7 linked regions of the Homo sapiens genome follow. The protein of the gene in region 3 purifies or fractionates together with the protein of the main gene of each other region. This does not show direct contact. Each region holds a gene or a part of one and is shown on either strand. Other genes may lie near its edges. The genes, in order: DUSP22, ANKRD13C, FUNDC2, ANXA8, ERGIC2, MZB1 and HK3.

What was found.
Region 1: the proteins of FUNDC2 (region 3) and DUSP22 purify together in Homo sapiens (co-immunoprecipitation; one large-scale study listed by IntAct). This does not show direct contact.
Region 2: the proteins of FUNDC2 (region 3) and ANKRD13C purify together in Homo sapiens (affinity purification with mass spectrometry; one large-scale study listed by BioGRID and IntAct). This does not show direct contact.
Region 4: the proteins of FUNDC2 (region 3) and ANXA8 purify together in Homo sapiens (affinity purification with mass spectrometry; one large-scale study listed by BioGRID and IntAct). This does not show direct contact.
Region 5: the proteins of FUNDC2 (region 3) and ERGIC2 purify together in Homo sapiens (affinity purification with mass spectrometry; one large-scale study listed by BioGRID and IntAct). This does not show direct contact.
Region 6: the proteins of FUNDC2 (region 3) and MZB1 purify together in Homo sapiens (affinity purification with mass spectrometry; one large-scale study listed by BioGRID and IntAct). This does not show direct contact.
Region 7: the proteins of FUNDC2 (region 3) and HK3 purify together in Homo sapiens (affinity purification with mass spectrometry; one large-scale study listed by BioGRID and IntAct). This does not show direct contact.

What each region holds. Positions count from the first base shown.
Region 1 is NC_000006.12:309,487-312,986, forward strand, and holds part of DUSP22 (dual specificity protein phosphatase 22), read left to right. Parts: intron 1-2,393; coding exon 2,394-2,476; intron 2,477-3,500. UniProt on the Homo sapiens protein: Dual specificity phosphatase; can dephosphorylate both phosphotyrosine and phosphoserine or phosphothreonine residues. Activates the JNK signaling pathway.
Region 2 is NC_000001.11:70,351,923-70,356,208, forward strand, and holds the start of ANKRD13C (ankyrin repeat domain-containing protein 13C), read right to left. Parts: upstream 2,801-4,286; 5' UTR 2,487-2,800; coding exon 2,057-2,486; intron 1-2,056. UniProt on the Homo sapiens protein: Acts as a molecular chaperone for G protein-coupled receptors, regulating their biogenesis and exit from the ER.
Region 3 is NC_000023.11:155,033,344-155,036,843, forward strand, and holds part of FUNDC2 (FUN14 domain-containing protein 2), read left to right. Parts: intron 1-59; coding exon 60-210; intron 211-3,500. UniProt on the Homo sapiens protein: Binds directly and specifically 1,2-Diacyl-sn-glycero-3-phospho-(1'-myo-inositol-3',4',5'-bisphosphate) (PIP3) leading to the recruitment of PIP3 to mitochondria and may play a role in the regulation of the platelet activation via AKT/GSK3B/cGMP signaling pathways.
Region 4 is NC_000010.11:47,481,316-47,485,472, reverse strand, and holds the start of ANXA8 (annexin A8), read left to right. Parts: upstream 1-1,357; 5' UTR 1,358-1,452; coding exon of another isoform or gene 1,453-1,539; coding exon 1,540-1,560; intron 1,561-4,157. UniProt on the Homo sapiens protein: This protein is an anticoagulant protein that acts as an indirect inhibitor of the thromboplastin-specific complex, which is involved in the blood coagulation cascade.
Region 5 is NC_000012.12:29,343,173-29,346,672, reverse strand, and holds part of ERGIC2 (endoplasmic reticulum-Golgi intermediate compartment protein 2), read left to right. Parts: intron 1-1,132; coding exon 1,133-1,230; intron 1,231-3,390; coding exon 3,391-3,500. UniProt on the Homo sapiens protein: Possible role in transport between endoplasmic reticulum and Golgi.
Region 6 is NC_000005.10:139,387,114-139,391,048, reverse strand, and holds MZB1 (marginal zone B- and B1-cell-specific protein precursor), read left to right. Parts: upstream 1-1,135; 5' UTR 1,136-1,192; coding exon 1,193-1,369; intron 1,370-1,628; exon of another isoform or gene 1,629-1,722; intron 1,723-2,381; exon of another isoform or gene 2,382-2,463; coding exon 2,464-2,588; intron 2,589-2,917; coding exon 2,918-3,028; intron 3,029-3,127; coding exon 3,128-3,284; 3' UTR 3,285-3,582; downstream 3,583-3,935. UniProt on the Homo sapiens protein: Associates with immunoglobulin M (IgM) heavy and light chains and promotes IgM assembly and secretion. May exert its effect by acting as a molecular chaperone or as an oxidoreductase as it displays a low level of oxidoreductase activity.
Region 7 is NC_000005.10:176,892,847-176,896,346, forward strand, and holds part of HK3 (hexokinase-3), read right to left. Parts: intron 3,340-3,500; 5' UTR 3,314-3,339; coding exon 3,218-3,313; intron 1-3,217. UniProt on the Homo sapiens protein: Catalyzes the phosphorylation of hexose, such as D-glucose and D-fructose, to hexose 6-phosphate (D-glucose 6-phosphate and D-fructose 6-phosphate, respectively).

The sequences.
Region 1 (3,500 bases), on a different chromosome or scaffold from region 3:
CTTAAAAGTGGTATTTTAATATCACCTAAATTTTTTTTCCTGACGTTGCTGAATGTTTAGAACAATGTTTCTTGACTTCTGCTTCATCATCAAGGCTTGTTAGAGATGGAGATTCCTCAGCCCCAGGGTAGATCTTTCTAACTAGCCTCTTGGCAGTTCCTAGGGTGTTAAACTTCAGAGCCACTCATGTAGAACACACACACACACACACACACACACACACACACACACATACTATAAAGAAGGAAGAAAACCCTTGTAATTCCGTCTCTGAGCTGGGGCTGTCTTTGTACCAGTCCCGCCATCCTCCCTGCCATGTGTTTGTCTCTGCATTTTTATACGTTGGGTTTGTGTCATATTTATGGTTTGGTACCTGCTTTACATTATACCCTGAGCATTTTCCCATGCCATGAAATAGTCTCCAGAACCATGATAATTAAACATTTGCCTTTCTTTGTTGTTGTTGTTGTTTGGTTTTGTTTTGTTTTGCTTGAGATAGACTCTCACTCTGTTGCCCAGGCTGGAGTTCAGTGGGGCGATCTCGGCTCACTGCAACCTCCGCCTCCTGGGTTCAAGCGATTCTCCTACCTCAGCCTCCTGAGTAGTGGGGTTTACAGGTGCACACCACCACGCCCAGCTAATTTTTGTAATTTTAGTAGAGATGTGGTTTCGCCGTGGTGACCAGGCTGGTCTCACACTCCTGACCTCAGGTGATTGGCCCGTCGCGGCCTCCCAAAGTTCCGGGATTACAGGTGTCAGTCACCATGCCCGGCCTAAACATTTGCCTTCTGATCCATTTCTCCTGTATCATTTAGGAAAGTTCAGCCAGGCTGGGATGGGGGTGTAGGGAAGTGGACCTCCTCATTTCCTGCTGGCCCCCTGTTTTGTAGATTAGTAGAAGGGTTCCACTTCAGGGGATCACACCATTTGGTCTTCTTTTTGCAGGTAGGGACATTGGAAGGGAATATAATTTTGTTATCTTCTTAGTTTCATATGGAGATAATTTAATAGCCAACTGATAGCTGATAGACAGTTCTGTTTGGAATTTCCAGAAAAAGTTTCATTTTTTAATTGTGCTTTAAAGTGAATATAGATGATGTAAACCACAGTCCTGTCTGAATCCAGAACTGTCCCTGCTTTTGACGTCTGGGGAAAGAAGTAATGGGCAGTTTCCTTTGTCTTCTAGAGTTAATGGTTTTGTATTTAGCTTTTTAAGAATTCTCATCATTAAGAGGCCATTGAATTAAAAAAATATTTTAAATATCCCTAATATTATGTGTCTCATGCAGAAAGACTGACCTAAGGTCATCTCTTACAAATGCTAACTACAAAATGGTCTCGTAAATTTACCTTCTTGATGATGTAATCCATGTAATCCATCATGATTACAATGTTTATTAATCTAAGTGCATTTCAATTTCTAGATTAACACTTTTGTTGCCTAAAAGGAAGAAGCTGAGGCAAAATTAATACAGAGGGTTTATTTGGGCCAAGCTTGAGGACTGTAGCCTGAAACACACTTTCAGGTTGCCTTGGGGAGTGCCCCGGAGAGTAAAATAGGGGCTCAAGTTTTTAAAGAAAAAAAGACGAATCAGGAGAGTGGCAATTACAAAAAATTGTTCAGCAGGAATTCTCATTGGTTTATAGAAATAACATTGGTTAGTGCCTGGCTATACGATATTGAACTATGATGTATGGCATTTTATGTCTACTTGGCATCAGTCTAGGGACCACATAGCAGATGGCTTCAAGGTAACCATTTAGCTCAAGGGGGAGGGAGAGGAGACTGCTGTTATATTACAGAGGCCTTTCTGCACCTGATCATTTAAAGGGACTCTTCTTCCTCATAGAAAGTTTTTTTCTTTCTCACTCTGGGTCAAAAGATGAGACAATCAGAAATAAAGTTAGGCAAGGCCGGGCGCGGTGGCTCACGCCTGTAATCCCAGCACTTTGGGAGGCCGAGGCGGGCGGCTCACGAGGTCAGGAGATCGAGACCATCCTGGCTAACACGGTGAAACCCCGTCTCTCCTAAAAATACAAAAAATTAGCCGGGCGTGGTGGCGGGCGCCTGTAGTCCCAGCTACTCGGGAAGCTGAGGCAGGAGAATTGTGTGAACCCGGGAGGCGGAGCTTGCAGTGAGCCGAGATGGCGCCACTGCACTCCAGCCTGGGCGACAGAGTGAGACTCCGTCTCAAAAAAAAACAAAAGAAATAAAGTTAGGCAAAATATATGAAAGCAGTAGCCCTAAGTTTCCTACATGTATGGTCAGTTATGAAGTTTCAGGAAAGAAATATGCAAGTCATTTTGTGGGTTTTTTTTTTTTTCTGGCTAGACTTTAGGAGTAATTAACTTGCAAAGATATCAAAATGTCCATCCCCTTTCTTCTCTGACAGATGCCAGAGACGCGGAACAATTGAGCAAGAACAAGGTGACACATATTCTGTCTGTCCACGATAGTGCCAGGCCTATGTTGGAGGTAAGAGAGCACCGTGGGGCGTGTGTGGGTGTCCTCATTTGTATTCCGTGGGAGTACCTACGACGTTAATGAAGGCAACCAGGTTCTCTCCAATGCGAACGTACTCCTGTGATCTCTGGCGGCATTCCCATTGTGTTCAGGCCGTGTTGATGTTAACACGCTGTCTGTAGCGTGGCGCGAGGGTGTGTGCTTTTTCTGATCACACTCCTGCTGCATTGCCACTTTGGCTTTCGTGGCTAAATGCCTAGGAATAAGCTGAGGCTGCATTTCCCTCTGGACCTTAAGGACATTTAAACCCCATTTTCATTCCTTTCAGAATTATCTCTGGTTTTAAAATCCAAAAAACTTCAGCCTGCTCATTTCCTGATTTTGTCCCATTTAAACTCAAATAGCTACCACTGGCATTCAGGGGTCACAGAAAACAGAAGGTGAATCGTCCTGGAGGGTTCCCAGGGCCGCTCTAATGTGGAGACTCTCGGTGTAGAAGCTGTTGTGTTTTAGGTTTTCGGGGTAAACAGGGTGTGTCTGCTTGTGCACTGATTCCAAAAACATCTTTAAATTTACCCTAATGGACGGTTTGAGCTGTTGGCTAGAGGTAAAATCTATTTATGTTTATTAGCCTTGACAGAGCCCGAGTTACCTCCTTTTAGAAAATAATGCTGTGTGGTTGTGATGTGTATGTGTTTTTCTATTTTAGGGTGGGGTGTTGGAAAGGGAGGGGTGGCTTGTTCTGAAAGAAAGAATCCTGGTTCAGGCTGTTTTCATTTAAATTTATATTAGGCAAGAGTAGGTAATGTTTTTTATTTCAAATGTATCTATTTTCTTTAGCCATTAGGGCTGCCAGATTTTAGTTAGTATAAAGTAAGCTAAAATTGATGAGAATGTAGAATAATAAATGATTCTACTAAACATTGTAGTACCAGAGAATCATAGGTGGTGAACAAACCTCAATTAATTTCTCCAGATCTCCGAGCTCCTACTTCCTTGTATTGTTTAGCTCATAATTTTTTTTTTTTTTTTGCTA
Region 2 (4,286 bases), on a different chromosome or scaffold from region 3:
TGTACACATTGCAGGGGGGAAAGCAATTATATTTACCCCAGGTATGTGAACCACCGGTTACATTAATCAGAAACATCAATGATATAAGGTCAGCTAAACACAATAAAAACCTTCCTTTAAAAAAGTGAATTTCAAGGCCAGGCGCGGTGGCTCAGGCCTGTAATCCCAGCACTCTGGGAGGCCGAGGCGGGCAGATCACGAGGTCAGGAGATGGAGACCATCCCGGCTCACACAGTGAAACCCCGTCTCTACTAAAATTACAAAAAAATTAGCCTGGCGCGGTGGTGGGCGCCTGTACTACCAGCTACTCAGGAGGCTGAGGCAGGAGAATGGCGTGAACCCGGGAGGCGGAGCTTGCAGTGAGCGGAGATTGCACCACTGCACTCCAGCCTGGGCGACAGAGCAAGACTCCGTCTCAAAAAAAAAAAAAAAAAAAAAAAAGTTAATTTCAGTGGGCTAAGGACAAGAGTTTAAGAGTATACAGGATTCTAATTACTTTGAACAGAATTTGAACTTAAACAAATGTACTCCTAAATGTTGGGTTGAAGAAGACATGGAAGCCCAACAATCCTGTAATTCAATAGCTTCAGTGATATTCATCCATCTCTTCTTTCAAAGGGAGTTAACTCTCAAACCTTTTATCTGTTTCAGGGATATTTCAAGGTAATGTAACTATGGCTACTATGTAAACCAAATTTGAAAAACTTCCTCATAATAGACTAATAAACTGAAGCTACAACCCATCTCCCACTAACAACTGTTTTCCAAAGGGCTAGCATAGAATTACCATCATCAACAAACAACATTATCCTTGTACTATAATAGTAAAATGATTAAGTAATTTAAATGTAGGAAAGAAAAACTGGCTGCAACTTTAACATACTTTTTTGGGGATTTATGATAAATGATAGGTGGTGATTTTATTACAATTACAACATTGTAAATTCTGAAAACAAATGCAGTTGTTAGATAATTATACAGCCAAGAGAAATCTTACTCGTTTTTTTTATCTGAATTTTTGTCCTAAAAAGCCTACGATCCAATGGAATTAAGTGAGCTTATTTCACAGGCAAATATTTCATTGATACGTATATCATTTTGAGCACAAAGTTGGTTCAGTGTGTTCTAACTGAATGTATACAATTTTCATATTAATAGCAGAGCGATCAACAATATTTGCCAACTACCCAGTTTAAAACGGCTATTAAATGTTAAAATGTCAGTGTTCACATTAGTCTTCAATAATAAATTTACTGTTGCTTAAAAGTCAACTCAGTCACATTATTTTTTAGAATTAAACAAAAAATTCAGCTGACAAGGCAAAAAGAAATGGTCAATATTGACTAAGATAAAATTACCATAAAAATCATAATACTATTTTTAGTCACAGTCATCAAGATGAGACATTACTATTAGCAATTATCTACTTAAAACAAGCAAAAAATCAAATCTCTACTCAAACAAAAATCGGCTGTTGAGAAGTCACTTTAACTGTTCTACGTATCAAATACCAACAAATTTCTACTGTGTGGCTTTCAGAAATCTAACATTCTAAGTTTACTGAAAGCAGACAAAAAAGAAACAACCTGGTGGCAGGCAAAATCACAACCAGTTGCAGTCAAGATGGGATCTGTATGTGAGCAATGAAGGGAGGAGGGCAATTTATGCGTTCAAAATTTAAAATGCCAAGGTAGGGGGAAGAGAGAGAAATAAAGATATATAGCTCCATAAACAAAGGGAGAAAACCATGTTGGGTGGGAGGCAACCTAAAATTTCTGACAGTCCAGAATCAGCAAATCGAAGGCCTGTCTCAAACAAAACAGCTTCTCACGACAAACTTTGAAGTGGGCAAGGAGGATACATTCCTTTGCACCCACAAGAACCAACCCCTTGACCACTGGCACGCTATTACTGAGTCGATCATGATTTACCGAACGGCCCGGATGATGGGCAAAAAGAAGAGTCTGCTGGAGGGGGCCTAGGATTCCAGAAGCCTGGGGAGGCACACCCTAGGCTCGGGGAAGGAGAGAGGTGGAGAGGGGCTAGCACTCCTCACCGTGATTATCTTTCTGCCCGATATTGTGCGTGCGGATGAGAGAGGAGAGTCTCCTCACATCCCCCTTGAAGACGCACTCGTGCACCGGGTAGTGTGCGGGGCAACTGCCTCCATCCGCGACGACAGCAACGGGGTTGGTGCCGGCCAGAAGGGCCGGGGACTGGGAGTTGGCAGTCACGGAGGAATTGTGCAGCGGCAGAGCCGGGGCGCCGGGGGGATTGGAGGAGGCCGGAGCTGCCTTCAGCTGTAGCCGGTGGTGATGGTTACTGAAGATCTTATGACAAGCTTTGCCGCCCTTGCCAATCCTGCTTCTGGTAAAGGTACCGCCGAGGGCAGCCGCCGCTTCCTCATCCCCGGGCTCCAGCAGGTCCCCTTCTTCTTTGCTGGGCTTGTGGTCCCTCCGCAGTGAGCGGATCTTCTCCCCGGTCATCGCCGCCGCCAGGGGCAAGGGGGGGAATCGGGAGGCTCACCGCTGGCGACGGAGCTGGCGCTGCGGCGGCACAAGGCGATTAGAGCGGTGGCCAAGAGCCTCCAGCGCAGCATGAACTCCCACTGAGCCCCCGAGCCTGGGACAAACGCATCTCCCGGGGAAGAGCCGGCTCTCGCCTAGGCACGAAGGGACGCGCGCTCGCTGGGGGAAGCTAGAACTCAGGTGCCCACGACACCAGGATCTCAGTCTCGCCGTCGCAGCCGCCGTCGCTGCCTTACACCGAAAAACAGGGCACGGCCATCTTCCTCTTGCTCCTCTCGCGAGAGCTCCCCCAGGAGTGAAGAGAGAGAAAACACCGCGATAAGTGAGCCACCCGCTCCCTCCCTCGCACCTTCTATTCCCAGAATCACTAGGCGCCGGCGCCTCCGAGGCAGTGTGTTTCCGCCCAGAGCTGGAGTCTCCCAGCTGCCAGCCGACCCCGAACCCGCACTCCCGCCAACCGCGCTTTTTGTGGGCGGTCGGAAACCACAGCCTCCGTTGGATATGTTCGGTGCATGTTATAAACAACCACTTAAACCCTCCGGATCTGAGCCTCCCGCAGAGGAATGCAGAATGACGCCACGGCACGCAGGATGTGATGTCACCGAGATGCAGAGGATACTCAGTCAACCAACATTTACTGAGCATCTACTTCGTGCCGTATGTACGAAGCTAGCAAATATGTACAGCACCAGTACTGATTGCAGGGAGCACTGTAGAAGAGGAATGAAGGCCAAACAATTAAAAGCGGAGGCGGGGAGGTGGGTTGCACACAAAAAAGGGAGGGACGAATTTTAGTGTTGAGTTGTCAGGAAAGTCATAGAAGAGTTTAGGTGCTGACTTTGGAAAATGATGGGCTGTCCAGCAATCGGAAAGAGGGGAGGCCACTCAAATATTTATTAGATGAATGAATTTCGGGCAGATGTCAGAGTTAACATATATGAGGGTGGGGACACTCAAGGAGGGCAAAGAATCGTGTAACTGAAATATAATTGTATTAGTTCATGGCCAACCTCAACCTAGTGTCAAACTCTGAAGAAACGTAAATCTGCCAACCATAAAACTTTAACAAAGTAACTAAAGCTGGCCACTGAGGACGTAAGGAGGGGGCTTAGCAAAACATCCTAAAGATCTTCACCCATTTAACTCTCCAAAGTCCCCCTATGTTCTGAGAGCAAATACTTCAGATCTCTCTCTCTTTTTTTTGTTTTTTTGTTTTTTTGACAGAGTCTCTGTAGTCCAGGCTAGAGTGCAGTGGTGCAATCTCGGCTCACTGCGACCTCCACCTCCCAGGTCCAAGCGATTCTCCTGCCTCAGCCTCCAGAGTAGCTGGGATTATAGGCCTGCGCCACCACACCAAGCTAATTGTTGTATTTTTAGTAGAGACGGGGTTTCACCGTGTTGGCCAGGCTGGTCTTGAACCCCTGACCTCAGTGATCCGCCAGCCTCAGCCTCCCAAAGTGCTGGGATTACAGGCATGAGCCACTGCGCCCGGCCAGATCTCTTCTTTCTTAAAGTTTATACTACTGCTAACTCATCTCCGCAAACAAACAACTCGATGGGCCTCTCTTAATCCTCCCCAGTCACTCAACTTTTCACCTCCAATTTTCTTCTCAGTCTGTTCAGATAAATCTGTTTCTTCCTCTTCTTTCTTTTTCGGTGGAGTGGAGAGTTCCGTTTATGTTAAAACATTACCCAATCAACAGTTCAAAGCATCCTCTTGAGACAGCAGTAGAGACTGAAAAAATACATGCAATAATG
Region 3 (3,500 bases):
CTCAATCTAGTTAGGTATAAAAGTAAATATTTTCTTATTTAACGTATTACTTCTTGTAGGAAACTTTGAGGGAAATTTTGAGTCACTGGACCTTGCGGAATTTGCTAAGAAGCAGCCATGGTGGCGTAAGCTGTTCGGGCAGGAATCTGGACCTTCAGCAGAAAAGTATAGCGTGGCAACCCAGCTGTTCATTGGAGGTGTCACTGGATGGTAAGTGATGTGAAAGATGTCCACTGTCTTTTGTGCATGATTTAGTATTGCAGTTATAGGTACCATCATCTCCTTTAACCAGTGAAAACACATTGGCTTCTGTGAAATTGGTCACTTAATGTGGAGCATGTATCTAAACATCATCTTAAAGTACCATTTAATGGTTACACATAATGATTGTTTCCTATATGCCAGGTTCTGTTTGAAGTATTTACATAGATATCTCATTTCCTTCTCACAACTCTGGAATTAGTACTGTTATTTTCTATCCTCATTTTATAGAAACTGAGGCTCAGAAAGGTTAGTTTGCCCAAGGCCACATAGCTGGTAACTGGTAGAATAAGGAGCTAACTACTTATTAGCTATGTCAGATGATAACTTAATGTGACACAGCTTATGGTTTCATTTGTAATAAATTCAAAAAGTAATAGCAAATTTCATAGGTGAATATTGAATCCATTAATCTCATAGACTCTTTACATTTGAAAAATTTTATAGCACCATATAGCAAATATAGAACAGCACATTTAACAGGTGTACATTTTAGCAAATACTTGGAGTGAACACCTATGTAACAACTGCTAAGGTTAAAAAAAACGTGGCTAGCGCCCTAGAAACTCGAGAGGTTATTAAGCAGTTATTTCATTGCTTTTCTTTGTAGTTTTAACACCAGTTATGTCACTAAATAACATACTGTGGTTTACCTGCTTTCCACCTTAAAGTAAATGCAATCAGTATGTATTCTTTTGAGTCTTGCTTTTTTCGCTCAACCTGATGTTTCATATATTCAACTACATTGTGTATAGTTGTAGTTTCTTCACTTTCACTTGTATTTTGAGTTCCATTATGTGAATATACCACAGTATATCCAGTTGATGACTGATATTGGAGTTGTTTCCATTTTTGGCTAATACTATGCTTATATGAGTATTAGATTTCCCAGTGTATATGTGCATACATTTCTGTAGGGTCTGTACCTAGAAATTGCTAGGTAATGGGTATAGGTATCTTCAGCTTCACTAAATAATGTCAAACCACCTTCCAAAACTGTTTTTAACAGTTTACAGTCCCAGCAAGGACCAAATGAACCTGTTGTTCTACATGGTGGCACTTGATTTTGCCAGGCTATTAAATTTTTAAAAAATTAGTTAATTTTTCCTTAGCGAGGTAATCAAGTTAAATCCAGACTATAAAAATTTTACCAGTCTGGTAGTTAGGTAGTAGTATTTCATGGTGGCTTCATTTACATTTCCCTGAGTAGGAGTGACATTGATCGACTTTTACGTATGTTTGTTGACCATTTGGATCTCCTCTTTCAGTTCCACTCTAGTTTTTTTCCTCTGAAGTTGTCATTCTTTCCCTTGTTAAGCTGTAAGAGTTCTTTATATATTCTGAATATTCTCAGTCCTTTGTTAGTTGTGTGTATTATAGATATTTTCACTCATTCTGTGGTTATCTTTTCGTTTTATGGTATCTTTTGATGAACTGAAGATCTTATTTTTAATATAGTCAATTTTATCAATCTTAACCTTAATGGTTAGTGATTTTTGTGGCTTATTTAAGTAATCTTTGCCTACCCCATGTTTCAGAACTTTTATTATTTGACCTTTCACATTTAGATTTATTATCCACCTGGAATTGTTATTGTGCTCAGTATGTGGTAGATTCCTTCTTTTCTTCCCCATGTGGAATACCCATTTGTCCCAACTTAATTTATTGTGAAAGCTATCCCTTTCCCCGCTGCTTTATGTGAGTGTGTGTGCGCATGCATATGTGTGTGTCTGCTATCTTGTTCTTTAGGAACATCTTGGCTATTTTCTTTATCTCTTAGTTTTTAAATTTAATAAATAGGTATATTATAAGTTGCACATATTTAAAGTATAAAATTTGATACATTTTTACATATGTACATGCCCATAAAACCATCACCACAGTCAAGATAATGAACATACCTATCACTTCAAAAGCTGCTTTGTACCTCTTTGTAATTCCACGCTCTTTCCTTCATGCCATCCTCCCGCCACTGATCTGCTTTCTATTACTATAGATTATGTTTTCTAGATTCTTTTTAGAAGTGGAATTACATAGTATATATTCTTTTTTGTCTGGCTTCTCTTATTCACCATAATAATATATTTTTTTGTTTTGAGACGGAGTCTTGCTCTGTTGCCCAGACTGGAGTGCAGTGGCACGATCTTGGCTCACCGCCTCCTGGGTTCAAGCAGTTCTCCTGCATCAGCCTTCACCATAATAATTTTGAGATAATCTGTGCTTTTCTGTTTATCAACAGTTCATTCCTTTTTATTGCTAAGTAGTACTCCATTGTATGGATGTACCACAATCTGTTTCTCCATCCACCTTTGATGGACATTTGAGTTTTTTTTTCACTTTTTAGCTGTTACAGATAAAACTTCAAGTTTGTATACAAGTGTACAAGTCTTTGTATGAACATATGCTTTCATTTCTTTTGGGTAAATATCTAGGAATAGTATGGCTGAGTCACGTAGTAAGTGAATGTTCTAAATTTACAAGTACCTGCCAGTTTTTAAAGTGCCTGTACCATCTTACATCTCCACCAGCAATGTGTGAGGGTTCCAGTTCCTCTGCATCCTTACTAACACTTGGTATTATCTTTTTGATTACGAACATCTTAGTGGGTATGAAGTTGTATCTCATTGTGGTTTGAATTTGCGTTTCTCTAATGACTAATGATGTTGAGCATTTTCACGGGCTTATTTTTTGCCATTCATATATCTTTGATGACTTATTTGTTCAAATCTTTTTCCACATATTTTTATTGGGTTGTTGGTTTTCTTTCACTGCTGAATCGTGAGAGTTCTTTAAATATTCTGGATAGAAGTCTTAGATATGTGATTTGCAAATATATTACTTCTCTGTAGCTTTTCATTATCTGAACTGTACCTTTCAAAGAGCAGAAGTTCTTAATCTTGAAGTGCAGCTCTTTTGTAGCTCCAGCTTTTGGTGTCATGTCTGAGAATATTTGCCTAATCCAGGGTCACCAAGATTTTCTCTCGCTTTTTCTAGATTGTATATAGGTTCGGATTTTATATTTAGTTCTGTGATCCATTTTGATTTACTTTTTGTATATAGTATAAGGTAGGAATCCAAGTTTTTTTTGCGTATGGGTATCTAGTTGTCCCCACATTTGTAAAAAAAAGACTGTCTTTTTCTCCACTGAATTGTCTTTACACCTATGTTGAAAATCAGTTGACTATATGTTTTTGAGCTCTTTGTACTGCCAAATTGATCTAGGTGCCATTATCATGCTG
Region 4 (4,157 bases), on a different chromosome or scaffold from region 3:
CGCTTGCCACTTTCCAGCTACAGCTGAACCTTATATCCTGGTTTGGTTCCTGATGACTTTCAAATTCTCCTGACCCAAACGCAAGCTCAGAAGCACAAGCACATTGTTGGTGGCAGTACAGACTGAAACACCCTCTTTGGATGGCAGTTCCTCTCACAGGACTTTATTCTCCAGGTATGCACAGGCACACACAGGTGCCCAAAGGATAAACACACAGATCTATTGTAGCATATTTGTATTACTGAGAGATTAGAAACATCCTAAAATGTTAACCAAATCGCTTGGATGAAAAGTTTTGCTCTGCTTATTAGGTTTGGCGTACAATATGGAGGTGACATCTGTTACTTCCAGTGTATTATAGATACTTTAGCTCCAAAAATGATACCTGTACCTAGATGGGCACCAAAAGGGAATGGTTAACAAATATTGCATATACAGGGGTATGGGGCAGCTCCGGGGCTGGGGATGGCGGCGGCCAGGTTTGCAGCGGCTCCAGGATGAGCGGGTGGATCCCGGGAAGCGTGGTGAAATGGGCTGGCTCCCGAGCCAGCCGGGAGGACGCTTACTACAGCTGCTCAGAAGCACCACTGGAAGCTCAGATGTAGGTGCCCCAGCCAGAAGCAGAGAGGGGTTCAGAGAAGCTACAGAGAAGCCCCTCCTGATGCCCCAGGGAGCAAGCCAACTCCTTCCAGGCTCCAGGAACACCACAAAGCAATATGAAACCTGTTCATGAGAGGAACCAGGAATGCCTTCCACCAAAGAAACGAGACCTCCCCATGACCAGCTGCTCCACTAACCACACATCCTCCAGTGATGCCTCTGAATGGTCCCGAGGGGTTGTGGTGGCCGGGCAGAGCCAGGCAGGAGCCAGAGTCAGCCTGGGGGGTGATGGAGCTGAGGCCATCACCGGTCTGACAGTGGACCAGTATGGCATGCTGTATAAGGTGGCTGTGCCGCCTGCCACCTTCTCACCAACTGGCCTCCCATCTGTGGTGAATATGAGCCCCTTGCCCCCGGAAAAAAAAAATAATATTGCATATGCAGTTGATTAAATGGCATACTCCATGGCTATTAGGAGTGATGAAAATGGGCTGGGTGCGGTGGCTCATGCCTGTAATCCCAGCACTTTGGTAGGCCAAGGTGGGCAGATCACCTGAGGTCGGGAGTTTGAGACCAGCCTAATCAACATGGAGCTGTGTTTACTGAGTGGGGCTTTCGCAGGCTGGAGCTAAGAATTTCCAGTATGCGTAACAGCCACAGCCCAAATATCTGCCAGTGAGTTGTGTAATTCCCCAGAGCAGGCCTGGGCAGTGTCTGGGTGGGGCCTGGGAGCCACAGGAGATGCCCAAAGCCAGGCAGAGCCCGGGGGCGAGGGGACGGCAGGCAGGTGTGGCGCTGCCCTGGGCGGGCTTGCACCCCCACACCCAAGTGAGCGGCCTGCTCACTCCTCAGCTGCAGGAGCCAGACGTGTGGAGTCCCAGCAGAGGCCAACCTGTGTCTCTTCATCTCCCTGGGAAAGGTGCCCCCGAGGTGAAAGAGATGGCCTGGTGGAAATCCTGGGTAAGTGGGAGCTGGCAGGAGATTTGGGTTCCTGCATGGTGTTGGGTGCTGGTCACCAGGGAGTCCTGAGAAATGTAAAGTCGCCCTTGGCTGGGAGTGGCTCAGTCTACATTTGGCTGCCTCCTGGGCCAAGCATGGAGGGTGGGAAGGGGCCGAGAAGAAACAGTCCCAGGCCTAGAGTGCCCACGGCAGGGATGGGACCTGGGCCGGGAGACAGGCTGATGAAGAAATCTAGAAATGCAAGGGGGAAGCTGAGGTTTGAGAAGAGTCCAGGGGAGGGACCCTTGCAGGGGTGGGGCCACTCAAAGGAGGGGGTATCATGGTTGAGCCTTGTGTGTAAATGTGTATGGGGTGCACACACGTGTGCATTTGGGGAGAATCAGGCATACTGCTCCTGGCAGAGGGAACTGTGTGCAGAGGGTCAGAGGGCAGGGAGCTTGGCTTCGAGGGAAGCTGCTCAGCACAGCTCAAGGGTCCTGGTACCGGAGGAGATGGACCTGGGGAAGCAGGCAGGGCCAGGTCCTGAAAGGCCTTGCCTGGCAGGCTGAGGAGTTAGGCTTTACCTTAAGAGAAGTGGGAAGGCACTGAAGGGCTTTGAGCATGAGAGTAACCTGAACCTGCTGTTGGGGACCCATCAATGCCTTCACCTCAGGGATCAATGATGTTCATTTGTCAAGACTGGAGAGGGAAGAGGGGAAGCAGGAGGACCTGGCCTGCTAGAGCCTGGAGGAACCCGGGGCTCAGGGCAGCCCATCCCCAGCAGAACTGATGGGTTCTCGGGAGCTTTCCATCTATGGTTGAGCCTGAGGCCATCGCTGTGCTAAGGAGTTGAATATCCAGAAGGGGACAGAGGTGACATCTCCCGGCTGCCGGCTCTGCACACCCTTTTCCTTTCCTCCCAGGCAGCCTCAGGATGTCAGGGCTGCACTTTCTGTTTTGCAGATGATGAAATGAAGGCTCAGAGACACTGAGTGACTTGCTAGGGTCCAATGGCCAGCAGGCTCCAGTCAGAGAGCAGTTGGGTCTCTCTGCCCAGCCCCAGGTTCTCTGTGAGCTTTTGTGGGATACCCAGGCTTGTCCAGCTTCAGGGAGTCTCTGGATCATAGATGTCGCAACCCAAGCAAGTGTCCTCAGGGTCAGACATGCTAGGTTCTGGACAGGTGGGACAAAGAGGAAGCCAGGCTGAGGTGGGGCAGCTGTCCTGGCCCCCAGGGAAGCAGCCTTCTTCCAGGACAAGGGGCCATGGAGGCCTGCAGCTTCAACCAGACTGCTGGGAACCTGCCTTTGAGGAGGTGGACATGGCAGGGAGAGCCCAGTGCTGGGTGGTTTCCAAAGTCAGTTGCTGGCCAAGGCAGTCTGGCACTGGGCCTTGCACCCAGTGCAGCAGGACAAAGGGCTGTCCATGTAGGGACCTGCCAAATTGACAGGATCACTGTGACACTCACTGAGTCCCTACTCTGTGGCCGGACCCTTCTCTAAGCACCTCACATTCAATATCTCCCTTGAACCTCACAAGGAGTCTATGAAGTAGACACCAGTATCCTTATCCACAGATGAGGAAACTGAGGCACAAGTAGGCTAGGCAGGTGCCCGAACTCACTAGTAAGTGTGAGAGTCTAGGTGAGAATCTGAACAGCCTGACTCCAGGGCCAAAACCATACCCTGGTCGTCCATACCCCATGTGAGAGCTGGCTAGGGGTAGCAAGTTCACAGGTAGACCCCACCTGCAACAGCTGAGCTGCTAGCGAAGACCCAGTGTCCTCTAGGCACAAAGCTGGGCCAGGAACGCGATGGGAGGAGATGAGGGAGCCACTGGAGAGAGATCTGTCTGCAGGCAGGGTCCATCTGCACCTCTCTTTTTGGTGTTGCCTTTTCCTCTGTGTCTCTCATAGAGACAAACCCATCTCCCAGGCCTCTGGGCAGCCACGTAGCAGGGGAAGGCCAAGGCGTGGCAGCTCCCCTGTGCCTGTCACAGAACAAGTTATATTAATAGATGTAGTCACAGGCTGGTCTGAGTCACCTTTTCAGTGAAAATGTGCCTGTCTGGACTAGCACGGCCCTGGGCAAGACCCTGCAGGAGCCTGAGGCTGACCCTTCCTTCTCAGCAGGAGGTCTGGAGCTCCAGGACTCCACACTGATAGCCAGGGCTCCGATTCCCAGAACACTTATTTTCTAAAACCTTAGAGTGGGAAGTGAGACAGAGGCTTCTCAATGCAGCAAAATCAGAACCAGCCAGGGAGCTGCTTACAAATGCTGCACCTGAGACCTACCGCACCCCTGCGGGACTGCATGCTCCTCAGGGATGCGGTTACACAGCCTGGCCACTCGCTGGTGCACCACAGCCCCCGAGTGCTGGGGCAGAGGGAAGCCGGCAGGCACTGAGAGCTGAGATGCCTCCCACATTCCCAGATGACCTGCGTTCCTGTGGGTGAAGCTTCCTTCAGTGGAACGTTCCAGGAACACTCATTGTCTGGGAAAGGTGGAGTCATCAGTAGGGCAGGGGAGGTAGATAGAGCTCAGCTTCTGAGTCAGGCTGGGGAGTCCCAACAGCATCACTTACTAGCTGTGTAAGGGAGTCCAGCTCCCTTTCTGTAAAG
Region 5 (3,500 bases), on a different chromosome or scaffold from region 3:
GTAGTTTCTTTAGTTTTCTTCCTACTGTAATATCAGTTCCTTGTATTTATTCAAAGGCTAGCTAATTTGATTTTGGTTTAGTGTATATCTTAAGATATTAGTAGAAACTGAAAATATGTCTTGTGGTGGTTATTCTCTTATAATTTTATTTTATTCTTAGTTTCTGTACTATAAAGAAATGCTGGCTGGGTGCAGTGGCTCACACCTATAATCCCAGCGCTTTGGGAGACTGAGGCAGGAGGATCACTTGAGCCCAGGAGTTTGAGACCAGCCTGGGCGACATGGCAAAACCCTGTCTCTACTAAAAATGAAAAAAATTTAGTTGGGCTTGGTGGCGTGCATTGTAGTCCCAGCTACGCAGGAGGCTGAGGCGGGAGGATTGCTGGAGCCCAGGAAGTCAAGGCTGCAGTGAGCCGTGATTGCGCCACTGCACTCCAGCCTGGGCGATGGAGTGAGACCCTATCTCAAAAAAAAAAAAAGGAAAAAGAAAAATGCTACTTTTCCATAATTGATAAAAGGATGTTAACGATTTTAAGGAATATTTAACTAAGTCACCAATTCATTTTTTTAAACATCTGTGTTGCCCATCTTATGCTTGCTGAGAACTTGTTTTACCGAGTATAAATATGTTGCTTTCATTGGTTCTTTTAAAAATTTTTTTTGTTAGACATTAAGTTGTATGTAACATTACATTTCAGATTAAATGTTTTTATTTTTTATTTGTTTGAGACAGGTTCTTGCTCTGTTGCCCAGGCTGGAGTGCAGTAGCACAATCATGGCTCACTGCAGCCTTGACTTCCTGGGCTCATATGATCCTCCTGCCTCAGCCTCCTGAACAGCTGGGACCCACAGGTGCATACCACCATGCCCAGTTAATTTTTAAATTTTTTGTAGAGACAGGGTCTGGCTCTCTTGACCAGACTGGTCGCGAACTCCCAGACTCAAGTTCGAGACTGTTCTTGAACTCCCACACTCAAGCAGTCCTCCTTCGTCAGCCTCCCAAAGTGCTGAGATTACAGGTGTGAGCCACCACATCCAGCTAAATTTCAGGTTAAATGTGTTTAATAGAAGAATATATTTGGCAGTAGTTTTGTTGCTACTGAATTGATAAAAAGTTTTTTTTGTATTCTAGACAACCAGATGTTCCAATATTTTATTACAGTTGTGCCAACAAAACTACATACATATAAAATATCAGCAGACACCCATCAGTTTTCTGTGACAGAAAGGGTAAGTTGAATCCAACCGGTAAAATAATTTGGTGATTTTTTTAAAAAAGCATTTTAAAGTTTCCTGGCTACAAAATAAGGTGGTGTTTTACTTGGTGTCTTCCCTCATTTAAAAATCTGTGGAAGTTTTGAAATGAATTAACATTTTATTTTAAATCAGAAATATGTCAGAAATGAATATTAGTATATTCTAAAGCAATAAAAGTAGATATTTAAAAAATCTGAAAGGTTTTCTATTGCATTAAGACTTAAAATTGTTAAATTGTGATGGCCTTAATTATTTTATTCTTAATGTCTTAATTTTATAAATGTTTTCTCATAAATTGATATAAGCAGTTCTTGATCTGGCAGCAGATTCTTTGAATTCTGTTACTTATTTATTAATAAATGTACTACCTTCTCTGGGCATACATGGTTATCATGGATTAGATAGCAAATTTAGAGGGTTTGCCTTCCTAAATTAATGCTTTGTATTCATCTGATTGTGATGAAGAACATTCCACTACCTCAGGGTGGTATGGCCATATAAGTAAATACTGACAGTGATGAGCAAAGTTTTGGAATTGGACAGTTTAATAGATTTCTTATCTACTTTGGGGTCATGTTTTCTTATTTTTGTGTTTGAATGGTGAATTCAAACACTTGTATCCAGAAGAATTCTAAGGCAAAATTTAAGTGCTTTAAAAATTTTGCTTTCCTTTATATAGTGTTTTCTTTTACTAGCCTTATAACTCATGATGACCATGCCCTCAATAATTGTGGAATTTTTTTTTTTGTTCTTATGAGATTAGGTATTGGAGTTTTTAGGGGTGAAGTGTCATGTGTCTATAGCTTTTCACTTGGCTTGGGAGAAAGTACAAGTTCATATAACTGCATATATATGTATAGGTATGTGTGTATATACACTCACACAAAGAAACTAGGTAAAGTTTATACCAGAACATATTGTGCTTTTCAACATTTCTTTAAGGAGTAGGGAGATTCCATTTCTCACCTGTAAGATTGGCAAACACCTCAAGGCAATACATACAGTTGAGAAGACTTTGGGGAAAATAGGCAAACATGCAGTGCTATGGGGATGCAAAGTGGCATAATCTTTGAGGAAGGTAGTTTAGCAGTATCTGCAAAAGGACCTATGCATTTATCCTTTGACTCAGCAATTGCACTTCGAGAAAGCTATTCCAAAGATACGGTGGGCAAAAATATAAAAATGTGTGTTTCAGGCTATTCGTTGCATTGTTATCTGTAATAGTAGAAGATTAGAAACAACCCAGATGGTACATCTACACACACTGGAGGAAGATGCAATTGTTAAAAATCAAATGAGAAGGATTTCTATATACTGATAGGAAAATATCTCCAGGGTATATTTTTAAAATAACAAAGCCAAAAATACATATGTAATAGAATCCCAGGGCATTTGACTGTTGAAGGATGTGTTTATACTGATAGGGTGACTAAAATAGTTTTTTAACTTAAAAAAGAATGGAGTAACTGGGGTTGGTAAAATGCAGGATAGGGGGTGGGAGGGAGAGGGCTGACATTCATTAGTCCTGGAACCCAAAGTGAATCATTATTAGTCTTTCATTATGTATATGCCCTGATCCCTAAAACAGTTTCTACCCTTATAGGTAGTGACAATATATTTATAACTCAGCATGATATTGAGCATTTTAGAGCTTTAAGATGTAGTCACTTTATTGGAAACTTGATCAGTTGGCTTATAAGGCTGTATTGTGCTAGTAATAGGGAAAGAGTTTTGTAATGCCCTACGTAAAACTGTTTTAATTTCCCTTGGTAGTAGTTAACCTCATTATTTGTATTCCTAAAGCTTGCAGTTTAGTTATAGCATGAGGAACATGCCATACATATTTGTAAGCTCTTGAGCTCAGTAGAAAACTTGTATCTAAGGTGACCTTTTTGAGAAAAAAAGAATGATTCTGCTCTTTTGATAGTTTCAAAAGCTAACCACACAAAGAATACAAAATAATTTGTCTCTGAAGAGCTTAGTCTAGTAGGACAGTTCATAAGGAAATGTGGATGTCCTTCTTTTACAGTAGGGCTTCAGGGCTTAATATTGAATGTATGTAAGTAACCAGATGACATGAATTCTGTTTCTCTCTTCCTCCTATTTCTCCCCTTCCTTTTGCCTCCCTTTTAGGAACGTATCATTAACCATGCTGCAGGCAGCCATGGAGTCTCTGGGATATTTATGAAATATGATCTCAGTTCTCTTATGGTGACAGTTACTGAGGAGCACATGCCATTCTG
Region 6 (3,935 bases), on a different chromosome or scaffold from region 3:
CCAGTCACAGCAAGGGACAGGGCCCAGAGCCTGCACTTCAGTTGCCCTGAGATTCCAGGAGCCTCTGAGGGAGATGAGGGGGGTCTGCATGAGGTGGGAGGTGGTGTGCGTGGGGGTCTGTATATAGTTCTGAACCGGAAATGGCTGGCCCTTGCCAGCCTGGTGTGTGATGTGATGAGTTTGGGAAGGACAGTTTCCATGAGAAGCAGTGGCAGGGATGGGGATGGATGCCTTCGTTGTTCCAGGCCTGTCAGGGGGCCCAGGTCCCTAGCAGTCCCTGCCCTCTGCCCTGGACTGGAAGCTGACTAGGAGAGCTACGAATCAGAACAACTGGCCATTTTCTAGCTGGAGATGCCAGCTCCGATGGCATGGAGGGCCCTGGGGCCACCCCAGGTGTCTTTACCTCATCCTGGTGTGTAATAAATCACTGACCATGGAGCCATCATGGCTGAAATAACTGGTGTGAGGTGCCTGATTTCCTGCCACAGCCTCTCAACACCCTCCACAGTGCCCTTCCACGCCTGGGTATGGCCTGGGTGGAGGGGACCTCAGGGCTAGGGAAGGAGACCATGTGTGTCTTGGAAACACTGTAGCATCCCTGTCTCCCTGAACTTGCCTCCCAGGAGGCTGGCAGCCACACCTCATTCCTTCTGGTGGTTGAGTGGCCAGGGAGCCTTGGGGTCAATCAGGCTTGGGTTTCTCAGCATGGCCCCTCTAGCTATGTGGCCTTGGATTTGTCACCTCTCTCTGAGCCTTTGTGTCGGAAGAGGCAGAATAAACATGACAGTCTCATTTCTCAGAAAGGTCAATGAAACAAAAAAAGATGACGGCAGCCAACCAACTCTTCCCACAAGGCACTCAGCACAGTGCCTGCCACTTGGCCAGATCACAGGATGTGGGCAGTATCGGCCCCTATGTGTTCCTGCCTAGGCCCAGCCCCTCTCCTTGCCTCAGTGCTCCCTATCTGTGAAATGGAGCTGAGATGGCTGGAGCCAGGGTCCAGCTAGAGGACAATGCCCACGTGGCATCTTCGGGGCCCTGGAGGAGGGAGTGGGAGGAGGATGGGAGGGGTGAGGTGTCAGTTCCCCATTGGTCTAGGCCAGGTGTTCTGTGGCGGTCCCCACACCACACAAGCACACACACATCTGCACCTCAACCACAGACTACACTTGCTGAACTGGCTCCTGGGGCCATGAGGCTGTCACTGCCACTGCTGCTGCTGCTGCTGGGAGCCTGGGCCATCCCAGGGGGCCTCGGGGACAGGGCGCCACTCACAGCCACAGCCCCACAACTGGATGATGAGGAGATGTACTCAGCCCACATGCCCGCTCACCTGCGCTGTGATGCCTGCAGAGCTGTGGCTTACCAGGTGAGTCCTTCACCACTGTCACCCTGCCCTGCTCACACCCCTTCTCAAGCCAGACCCCTCCACCCACCTCACATTCCACCACCGGCCTTTGATCCCCAATCCCTACCACTGGGCATCAAGCCACAGATGCAGCCTTTCATATATTCCATGCCTCAGTTTACCCATCTGCCTGCCTAACAGCAGACAATCTGGGAGACCTCCTCAGTATTTTGAGACCCCAGGGAATCACTCACTTGTCCTTAGACTTCTCCCTTTCCAGGCCCATCCTTGAGTCCGGACTCCCTCCCCAACCCTGACGGGGCGGCTTTGGCTATGTGTACATGGTGCAAGTGCACACGTGTGAGCGCCTGCACGTGAGTATGCGTGTGTCTGGCTTCACACACACACCTGCTGAGCATGCCTGCGTGCCAGTGTCTCTGTGAGGTGGGGGCCTGGGAGTACTTGTGTGATTGAATATTGGGCTCCAGTTTTTCTTACCTTGCTCTTGTGGTTTAAAATGGCACGTGCCGGCCGGGCGCGGTGGCTCACGCCTGTAATCCCAGCACTTTGGGAGGCTGAGCGGGGCCGATCGCCTGAACTCAGGAGTTCGAGACCAGCCTGGCCAACATGGTGAAACCCCGTCACTACTGAAAATACAAAATTTTAGCCGGGTGTGGTGGCACATACCTGTAGTCCCAGCTACCTGGGAGGCTGAGGGAGAAGAATCACTTGAACCTGGGAGGTGGAGGCTGCAGTGAGCTGAGATCGTACCACTGCACTCCAGCCTGGGCGACGAACGGCGTGAGACTCTCTCTAAATAAATAAATAAATAAAAATAAAATGACACTTGCCACTGGGCAGGTGTGCCCTGGACGAGGGACCCCAGTGCCCAGGCCTCACCTACCACTTCAGCATTTCTTTCCCATCCCCCATCCCCATCCCAGAGAGCTTTGGGGGCTGGGGGAGGGGCCATGCAACAGCCTCACAGGTGCTTCCTGCTCAAACGGCTCTCTTGCCACTTTATTTTCCCCAGAGACTCTGCTCCTATCCTCCCCACCTCCCCCTAACTGAGCAGCAGTCCTGAGGCCCTGCCTCCCAGTCCCTCCTTGTTCCAGATGTGGCAAAATCTGGCAAAGGCAGAGACCAAACTTCATACCTCAAACTCTGGGGGGCGGCGGGAGCTGAGCGAGTTGGTCTACACGGATGTCCTGGACCGGAGCTGCTCCCGGAACTGGCAGGAGTGAGTTGCCAATCCTGCCCCCCACCTCCCTCCTCCAAGGGCAGGCCTGGTGGGTGGAGATTCCCACTCAGCCGCTCACACAACACACACACTCCTCTAGGACTCTGGTCCAAGGGAGGGGCTGGCTGGGATGAAGTCTGGGCTCTGGAGCTGAGAGCAAGTGGGAGAGCAGAGGGCCAGTGGACAAGGTCACCTTGTGACCTTGGGCCAGGGGCTTTCCCTCTCTGAATTCCACAAATGCCCAGCATGTCCAGCTTGCTGTGGAGATGGGTCTCTCCCTGGCTGGGCTCCTGCCAAAACTGTACTCCTCTCCTCTCCACTGCCACCAGCTACGGAGTTCGAGAAGTGGACCAAGTGAAACGTCTCACAGGCCCAGGACTTAGCGAGGGGCCAGAGCCAAGCATCAGCGTGATGGTCACAGGGGGCCCCTGGCCTACCAGGTGATGCCCGGGGCTTGGGGATAGGATGAAGCTCCTGGAGCCTTGGTTTGCCCCACTGTGGGCTGGGCAGCATCTGAGGCTCCTGCTGGGCTCCCCTAGGCTCTCCAGGACATGTTTGCACTACTTGGGGGAGTTTGGAGAAGACCAGATCTATGAAGCCCACCAACAAGGCCGAGGGGCTCTGGAGGCATTGCTATGTGGGGGACCCCAGGGGGCCTGCTCAGAGAAGGTGTCAGCCACAAGAGAAGAGCTCTAGTCCTGGACTCTACCCTCCTCTGAAAGAAGCTGGGGCTTGCTCTGACGGTCTCCACTCCCGTCTGCAGGCAGCCAGGAGGGCAGGAAGCCCTTGCTCTGTGCTGCCATCCTGCCTCCCTCCTCCAGCCTCAGGGCACTCGGGCCTGGGTGGGAGTCAACGCCTTCCCCTCTGGACTCAAATAAAACCCAGTGACCTCACTTCTTTTCTCTGCAAAAGGTGCTTGTGGGGCTGGGAGTGCAGACATTGGTGTTTCTGCTGATGTCCCTTGTGAAAAAAAAAAAAAAACTCTCAAAATCAATTTTTTTTTTTTGAGACAGTCTCACTCTGTCACCCAGGCTGGAGTGCAGTGTTCTTGGCTCGATGCAACCTCCACCTCCCAGGTTCAGGCGATTCTCCCACCTCAGCCTCCTGAGTAGCTGGGATTACAGGCACCCACCATCATGCCCGGCTAATTTTTGTATTTTTAGTAGAGACGGGATTTCACCATGTTGGCCAGGCTGGTCTTGAACTCCTGACCTCAGGTGATCCGCTCGCCTTGGCTTCCCAAAGTGCTGAGATTACAGGCATGAGCCACCGCGCCCGGCCTTCAAAATGCTTTTTCTATTCTCTCACTCGACAACAGCACAGAAGATGGCTGTGACCGAATGCGTG
Region 7 (3,500 bases), on a different chromosome or scaffold from region 3:
AAACAGATCCCTAAGAAGGCGAATCATCCTAACTGGGGTGCCAGATGTCCACTTACACGTTTGCCTTACAGCACATGCTTCCAGCAGCCATGCCTGCTAGGGGTGCCCATGCCCACTCTATCTCACCCTGACCAGGCCTATCTGGTGACAAGGGAAAGAGAAGCTGAAGCCAAGCTGCAGACCCTGTTTGCTCACAGGCTGCACATCCAGGAACTCAGGCAGTGGGCAGCAAAGTCAAAGAGCTGCAGGACAGGCGGGGTCTCAGCCTTGCCCCTCTGAGCCCCAGCTGCCCAAGTGTTAGAAATATGGAAACGGAGACTCCGAGAGGGCAAGTCATCTGCAGGGCCAAGCAGCTGTGAAGGGGCAGGGGAGAATTTGAACCCATATCTACCTGAATGCAGAGATGTTTCTATGTCAATGTGAAGCTTTATAAAACCTAGAAAGTTCCCTTGAAAAGAACTCAAGGCTGATGAAAGTTGCTGGAAAGAAACCCCAGATGATCCGGCTTGAGAAAACTTACAGCTGAGTCCTCGCACTCCCTTTTTCTGGCTCTGCAGTCCTGGGAAAGTCACACCTCTCTCTGAGCCTCAGTCACCTCTTCGTGCAAAACTGAGAAAATAATAGTACTTGGAAGTCCCCCAATGCCAGGGACTATGTCTTGCTCAAGGCTACATCTGAGGGCCACGAGGAGCACCAGCTGGAAGCAGGATTTGTTGATTGGATGGTTGTGGTGGCATAAGAATTAAAGGCTGTAATGTATGTGGAAGTGCCAAGTGCCATTGGGATGGGAGGGGCGTTTTAGTATTGCTTCATGAAAACAGTAGAGTCACGGAGAAGTCAATGGCTTGGGCAAATTGTTTTTCTTCCTTTTCCTCTTGGGCATATTGAGATGTTCGGGAGGAGAGACTAGAAGACAGCAGAACTGCAAGAAAGACAGAAGGACTTCCCTGGCAGATCCTGGTGAGGCACACACAAGCCAGGAGAAGCTATCGGAGCCACCCCTGACACCCCAGGAAGAGCAGGGAGAGACCTCAGACAGAAGAGCAAGGAGAAAGGCATTAGAGAGCATGTGAAGTCCAATGTGGTTTCAACACTGGCTCTTGTCACCAACTTGCTGTGTTGCTGGCCTGGGCCCATCACCTCACCTCTCTGAGCAAGCAACCCCTCTATCTAGCAGGAACAATAGTACCTACTTCTCAGAGATGCCATGAGGACTGAGACGACAGCAAACCTGAAGTGGAGGAACAGTGTCACACATAGGAGATGCTCAGTGGAACACGGATTCCCTGTCCTCAGAGCACAAAGCACACCCAGCCTGGAGAGCCTGACTCCATACCCTCTCTGATGACAAAGAGAAGCCTGGTGGAAGGGGTGGGGAAGGGCCTCTGAGATGGTACTGGGAACTGGCCACACGTGGTTAACTAACTTTTTTCAACCTAAGGTCATGGCAAGGGGAGCACAGGGTAAGGCCTGTGGTGCTGAGTTGGGGGTCCAGGACCATGGGAAATTTGGTGTCCCTGTGAAGTCCCCCAAAGCCGAAAGGGATTCTTTCAACCGCAGGTGTATGTGATGGAGCCAGCAGGGCAGATGTGGGCCTGCACAGGAGTGTCATCAGGGAGGGGCAAGAAGCGAGGGAGGAGATGACAGCAGGCCCTAGAGCCAGTCCTGGCTGGGCAGGCACTGTGGCCCAGCCACCGCTGTCACTCCTGAGGCACGGCTGTGGGTCAGGCACAGAAGAACTGTCTGCAGCAGGGTCTGGGGTACAGGTTGGACAAGGGGGAAGTGGGAGCATGAAATGCAGCGAGGGGTAATGCCTCCACAATCTGGGCAACAAGCCTAGTCAAGTGGATGTCAGAATATGCCAGAAAACTAAAGAAACTGCAGAGAATGACTCAAGTACCCTTTAGTGGGCACCTCCTCTATGCAAGTCCTTTTTTTTTTTTTTTTTTTGACAGAGTCTCGCTCTGTCACCCAGGCTGGAGTGCAGTGGTACGATCTTGGCTCACTGCAAGCTCTGCCTCCCGGGTTCACACCATTCTCCTGCCTCGGCCTCCCGAGTGGCTGGGACTACAGGCGCCTGCCACCATGCCCAGCTAATTTTTTGTATTTTTTAGTACAGACAGGGTTTCACCGTGTTAGCCAGGATGGTCTTGATCTCCTGACCTTGTGGTCCGCTCACCTCGGCCTCCCAAAGTGCTGGGATTACAGGCCTGAGCCACTGCGCCCGGACTTTTTTTTTTTTTTTTTTTGAGATGGAGTTTTGCTCTTGTTGCCCAGGCTGGAGTGCACTGCCACAATTTTGGCTCACTGCAACCTCTGCCTCCCGGGTTCGAGCGATTCTCCTGCCTCAGCCTCCCAAGTAGCTGGGATTACAGGCATGTGCCACCATGCCGGCTAATTTTGTATTTTTAGTAGAGACGGGGTTTCACCATGTTGACCAGACTGGTCTTGAACTCTTGACCTCAGGTGATCCACCTGCCTCGGCCTCCCAAAGTGCTGGGATTACAGGCGTGAGCCACCGCGCCCGGCCATAGGCAAGTCCTTTATCTCCATTAGCCTTCAGGGGGTGGGGAGGATTAGACTTTATTTTCCTCCATTTTACTGATGAGGAAACAGAGACTAAGAGATATGAAATGGCTTACACAAGAGTTTCCTGCTCAAGGGTGTGGTATGAGACAGCTTCTAAATCTTGGTCAAGATGACAGAAAAAGAAGAAACTCACTTCTGAGCAAGCCTCAGGCATGAGTTTGGCACTAAAATCGTCTGTGTGCCTGATTGTAGCGGCTACATTGAGGGAGACATGCAGGAGGAACTGGAGAGGCGGGAAAGGAAAGGTCTCAAGAACACAACTTTTGACCAGATAACCCTGAGAAAGTCCACTCTAGACTGTGTCACCCACTTGGGGCGGGAGCGGCACCTGTGTGGCAAGGTGGCAAAAATGACATGTTTGGAGCTGAAACACCTCAGCTCAAGCTCCTGTCATGTCTTAAACTCAAGTCATAACACTTCTCTATATCCCTCTTCATCACCTGTAAGATGATCAGCCCAACCTTGCAGTTGTTTGGAGCATGAAAGGAGATCGTTACCAGCTCAGATATGAAAAGCTCAGTGGAAAGGGGCTGCATGGGTGAGAGCCCAGGGCCCCATGGCAGCTTCAGTCACGCTGCTCTTGAAGGCCTTAGACAAGCATGAAACAGGAACCCAGTGCTGAACTTACCAGCTCTGAGCTGTCTGAGGGCCCGGGCAAGCCCTCCTCAGAGCAACTCAGGGTTTCTTCCCCCTGCCGCAACCCTGAAGACCCAATGGAGTCCATGAGCTTCCACAGTGGAAGGTGGCCACCTATGGGAGAAAAGGGACAACCTGGGTCAACCATTTACTCTATAGGCCCTAGGAGTCTGTAACCCAGACCAACTTCCTTCCTTCTGAAGGGGACCAGGAAGGAAGCTGGGAGCAGAATTCAGAACCTCCAACCATCAAAGATCCTGTAGCAGTCAACCAGA